Regions from separate parts of the Homo sapiens genome. Here region 2 is linked to region 1. A link means that fine-mapping ties the variant in region 1 to the expression of a gene that starts in the linked region. Tissue or cell type: whole blood. Region 1 holds a variant in brackets; the other region holds the start of a gene. All regions are shown on one strand. Distances are between the middles of the regions.

Region 1 (2,670 bases):
CTCAGGCATCAGGGATGGTGGATGGAAACACCTGCTCACCTGCACCGCGGGTGGAGGTGTCAGGCAGTGAATACGTTGACCCGACCTGTCCCTCTCTCCAGAATAACTTCACCTGTGTTCTTGTACCAGTTAAATACCAAGACAGCAGTTGGTGGGATTTTATCATTTATTTTAGAAAGACAAAGCAGGTCATGAGATGGTGTTGGAGGAGAAGCATCTTGTGGTCTCAGCCAAGCCTGCGTCCAGGGGCAGGTGGCATGCAACGTATCCTTTAGCTGACGGGGTGGAGGTGGGAGAGGCTCACAGTGGAGCTGCCACTCACAGATGGGTCTGCACATCGTGTTTCAAAAGCCATACTTCGTGCATGAGCGAGATGGGTAAATGCAGGGGAGCGAGTTGCAGAAGCTGCTTCTCCCGGCATGGTCGCGCACAGAGGTGCTGCTGTGGCGGAAAGGGCAGAGACGTGCACACAGTTCCATTTGTATGAAATGTTTTCTAACTGACGGTGCGGCGAGGACATGATGGGGGGACAGTGGCTTTGGGTGTGGGTGTGTAGGTGTGTCCCCCATTCCTCTCGTGAGTGCACCCGGGAGGCCTGGCTGTGATGGTGAACAAACCTAGAAGGCCCACAGGCAGGGAGGAGGCCCATGCTCCGAGAGTGTCCATGCCAGGCGTGGCGTGGGGAAGTTGGCATCGCCACAGAAGAGACCAGGACGAGGCTGGGAAGGAAGAAGTGCGCTCGCACCGTGTGTCGCAGAGGGGCAGCCTCACACCACGGGGGTGGGAGTCGGAAGCAGGGGCTCGGGGAAGGCCTCCCCCAACTGCCTGTTGGGTTTCCTGCAGAAAGAGAGGGACGGGGCAGAGCAAATAGTTCGGGAGTGGCTGCTTCGGAAAGTTCTTGCAGGCTTTGTGCTGTAGGGACACTTTCTAGTTTCCTTTACCTGGCTCTGCGCTGGTTTCAGGCAGGGCTTGGCCTGGGCGTGAACTTGGGTAAGAAGGTGATTGGGTTGCATGGGAGCCCTTGGCTATCTAGGAATTTGCCAGCCCTGAGAGAGGGGCAGTCTCTCCCTGGCCAGAAACTTGTTAAGATGGCAAAATTTCCTAAAATAAAACATGATTAATAAATAAAAATAATATACAATTAATACAGTATGTGTCCTCGGATTTCCTGGGAAACCCAGGAGCTGGAGCCTGAGGCCCGAGGGGGCGTCTGCTTCCATGGGCGTGGAGTTGGGACCTCGGAGCTGCTGGGACTCGCTCAGAGACACCCCTTGCCTACCAAGTTAGGGAACTGGGTGTGCAAAAAGCACAGGCCTGGTGGGGACAGGAGCTCCTTCCCAGGTGGTGAGTGGGGCGTGAGGCTGGGGCTGTGGACATGACCTGCCAGACCTGAGGGCTGGGGTACTGCGCTGCGTGTTGTGACCTTGCCTGTAATGCGGGGAAGGGACTGCCTTGTGGTGCCTGACCGTTTTGGGTGTAGCCTGTACCAGGTGGGACCCAGGATCCAGGTGCTGCTGACTGCCACCCAGAACACAGCCACACCCTAGGCCATGCGTCCCTTTCTGCCACTAC[A/G]AAGTGCTTGACCCTTCTCTGTTCTCCTTCCTGCTCAAAGCTGCCATTCCTGTTGCTGGTGACCCCTTTATGGGAGGCGTATCCTGAGAAGTCCCTTCCTGGGCCTGGCCCGGGCCCCAGCCCTGATCAGAGCAGCTGCCTGCCTTGACTAGTTACTGAGTCTGTTGAGTGCGGTGTGAGAGTGGATGAGTTTTGAGCTGCCTCTGAATTCAGTGAATTGTGTGTCTTCTCTTTTGAAGCAGACGGTTGATGATGAAGCGCCGGCCGTGTAAATGAAGATCGGGTGAGGAGCAGGACGATGCCCAAGGGTGGGTGCCCTAAAGCACCACAGCAGGAAGAGCTTCCCCTCAGCAGCGACATGGTGGAGAAGCAGACTGGGAAAAAGGTAATGCTGCCCCCTCCCAGCCCTGCATGCTCACCGCACCCAGATGGGGATGAGGTGGGAATGGGGTGCTGCCCGCCTGTGGCCTGTTCTCCGCCCTCCGGCCCTTTCCTCGTGCCTCTGTCTGCAGCCAGGAGTGGAGAGGGTGGTGAGGAGTGATCTTTCCCAAAGTGGCCTTGCTTTTTTTGTATTTGTTATTTGGGGACCGAAGTCAAGCGTTAAATAATAGCTTTATGTACAGAAGTTGGCCTGAGCCTCAATGTGGCTGCACGTTTCTACCCCCAGAAGTCCAGGATTTCTGTCCTGGCTCCTGTTAGGCCTGTCAGGCATTCAGATATCCTGACTGCAAGCAATGCTGGGCCACGTTACTTCCAACTGTGGTTTATTCTAAATGTGAATAGGAAAATGGGATGCCAATCAAAACCACTGCATTTTATTAATGTGCGGTTAACGCTGATTCCTGGTGTGCAGACTTCCTGCCTTGCAGTGTGGGGGGTGATGCAGTTTCCTGGGGTGCAGACTTCCTGTCCTGCAGTATTGGCGGGTGCTGCTGGGTTCTGGGGTGTTAGGAAGTACAGACTTCCTGTCCTGCACTGTGAGGGGAGACGCCGAGTTCTGGGGTGTGCCCAGCGAATGTGAACTTGGACAGATCCAGGTTCAAGTTCAGGCTTTGCCATGTGTTATCTTTGTGACCGTCAACAAGTCAGGTGTCTCCT
Region 2 (2,675 bases), 190 kb before region 1:
CTCCAGCCTGGGCGACACAGCGAGATTGTCACAAAAAAAAAAAAAAAAAAAAAAGAAGAAAACAAAACACAGAAGTACATTGGCTGCTATCCCATGGCCTGAAGCTTCTGCAGGAGAAAGGGAGCAGCCCAGCTCTCCAAAGGCCACAGTGGCTGCCCAGACACGGGGCTCCTGCTGTCACCAGAGAGTGGCTCCTTGTAGAACATTTCCAGGTACCAAACCAGTTAACAAGTATATACTTTCAGAGTTCTCCTTTCAAGATAAACATTTTCCCATTTAAATATGTTTTATGGCCGGGCGCGGTGGCTCACGCCCTGTAATCCCAGCACTTTGGGAGGCCGAGGCAGGCGGATCACAAGGTCAAGAGATGGAGACCATCCTGGCCAACATGGTGAAACCCCGTCTCTACTAAAAATACAAAAATTAGCTGGGTGTGGTGGCGCGCACCCGTAATCCCAGCTACTCAGGAGGCTGAGGCAGGAGAATCGCTTGAACCCGGGAGGCGGAGGTTGCAGTGAGCCAAGACCATTGCACTCCAGCCTGGGCGACAGAGCGAGATCTCTGTCTCAAAAATAACCGAAAAAACAACAACCTAAAAGGTGTGGGCTAAGCTCCTAGGCGAGGGCTAGGAGAAAAAAACATCAGCCCAAAAGCTGAAGGACACAAGGTCTGGTTTTCGGGAGGAGATGCTATCCTATCCTTAGCAGAACCTGAAACAAGGCCGCACTACAGGGGGTGCTCAATGACTGTATCAATAACGTGCCGAGCTACATGACAACAGCAAAATGCAGCTACAGGGTATTTTGCGGACACAGAAACGTTCTGGGCCCCCTACTCGGCAATAACCACCCTAACTGGAAGGCGCTGGAATTCCTGGTGACGGAATCGATCCACAGGCGTGGACTGTAAATTAGTGCTACGCCGGAAACCGTTACTGGATTCCACTTTAAAAGGCGAGGAAGACGGGCGGAGAACATCCACACACAACAGACGGGTTGGGAAAGTCCACGCCGAGGACTGCGCGGATCCCAGCCCTGCCTCTTCCCGGCCCGCCCAGCGCCCACGATCCAGGGCCCCAACAGTCGCTCCGCGCCGAGGTCCACAGCTGGGGGATCCGCGGGCCCACAGGCGCAGGCTCCCCCGCCGCAGGGGCCAGGCGGCCTCCGACCCGCCCCGCCGGGCTGGGCCTTACAGAGCAGAGCCGGGCGGGAGGTGGGGCCCGGACTCCGCGGGGATTTACCTGCAGAGCTCGGCCTCCAGCCTCGGCGAGGTCCCCCGGAGGCCTGCTGGCCATGTACGGCCGCCCCCTCCCGGGCCTGGCGGGGAACCCTGGACTCCAGGCCGGGCCTGGGCCCCACAGCGGCCGAGGACCCGGGCCTGGACCCCGGCGGAGGGCACGGAGCAGCAGCAGCAGCACGGCCATGTTGGCCTGAAAGCCGCGCCTGCGTGATCCGCGGGGCGCTACACGGCGCCTGCGCGGCGGGGTGGGCGGGGTCTGACGTGGCGCCTGCGCGGTCCCCACAGCTGCGCCCCGCCGCGCCCGGGTGCCGCTTGCCGCACCCCCGAGCCTGAGCCCGTCTACCTCGTGGCTGCCTGAGGCCCGGGTATGGGGGCGCGCGTCTGCGAGGAGGTCGCGGGTGCCCTGGTTTTTTTGAAGCCGGCCTTGTATTCCCAGGGCCTGGCGGGTGAATAACCGGCCGGGTCGTGGCTGCGTGGTCGTGCTCCGCCCGCGCCGAGGGGCCTCACGCCCGGGCAGCCTGCGTCACCCGCAGGGTTCGGTCACAGGCGAGGGCGGATGGTGCGGGCCGGAATCCCGCCTGCGAGTAGAGGCCCGCGCTCAGGAGGGCGGCGCCGGAGGCCTCGGGTCGGGAGGGCCCCTTCGGGTGTGAGGAGCGCAGGAAGGGGGCGGTTTTCCTGCGTCTTGAGCCGCCCGAGGACGAGGACTGAAGTTGCAGCCGCCGCAGGGAGGGCAGCCCCGGAGGAGGAGGGTCGTGAGGGAGGGAGCGCGCAGTGCGGCGCGGCCTGGCAGGCGTCTGCAGAGCTCGTCCCGCACACCTCTGACTTCGGAGCGCTCCGTCCTGTGCCTTCGGACTGGCTCACCTCGGAGGCGCTTCGAGCCTCGGTCCTGCCCCGGCCGCTGCGCGAGCCCATCGTAGGAAGCGGGGAGGCGCCGTCTGGAAGCTTAGGAAGAGGCTCTGTTCTCTTCAGGGTCCGCCCTCCGGGCCCGGGCAGGGTCCCTCGTGGGCTCCCAGGCGCGCGGGGTCCTCCGCCACCCCGACCCCTTCCTCCGTCCGCCTTAGGTCTAGAGCTGACGCCAAGAGCTGGAAAGCTTGTTGAGTAGGAAAAGCAAAGACTAGATGGTCTGTCACAGAGGTAGGATGAGGGTGACCTATTTATTTTTATGCTTTTCTGTACTCCGCAAATTCGTAACAGTGAATGCCAGTGACGACAGCCAACATCACCGAGTGCCTAGCTCCGTGTCGAACACCCATGTAATATTCACAACCCTGTGCAGCGAATACAATACCTCTATTTTACATGTAAAGAAAGATTCAGAAGTATTAAAAGTAACCTGCCTAGGATTACAGCTCTGAAGTTAGGGCAGAATTTCAAGGCCGGTCTGGTTTGTTTCTGGACCTGCACTCACTCCACCACTACAGACGAGGTTGCAAAGC

Evidence for each region. PIP is the estimated chance that this variant, and not a neighbour inherited with it, causes the effect.
Region 2: it holds the start of SPG7, and the variant in region 1 is fine-mapped to the expression of SPG7 in whole blood (TOPMed, PIP 0.99).

Annotation. Positions count from the first base shown.
Region 1 is chr16:89,316,220-89,318,889 of GRCh38, reverse strand. ANKRD11 (ankyrin repeat domain containing 11) reads left to right here. Exons shown (of 13, transcript NM_013275.6): 3 at 1,812-1,957. The coding sequence starts at 1,871. LOC128462377 reads left to right here. Exons shown (of 2, transcript NM_001416403.1): 2 at 1,815-1,844. The coding sequence ends at 1,844. Among named protein-coding and RNA genes, the nearest start is that of ZNF778, 100 kb to the right of the region's middle. RefSeq lists enhancers at 684-1,275, 1,276-1,867, 2,561-2,660, 2,460-2,670 and a silencer at 2,426-2,576. The variant A/G (reference allele first, on the strand shown) is at 1,573.
Region 2 is chr16:89,507,166-89,509,840 of GRCh38, reverse strand. SPG7 (SPG7 matrix AAA peptidase subunit, paraplegin) reads right to left here and starts at 1,438. Exons shown (of 17, transcript NM_003119.4): 1 at 1,241-1,438. The coding sequence starts at 1,423. LOC101927863 (a long non-coding RNA gene) reads left to right here and starts at 1,521. Exons shown (of 5, transcript NR_188547.1): 1 at 1,521-1,604. RefSeq lists silencers at 945-1,064, 1,095-1,654, 1,725-1,934, 2,055-2,124.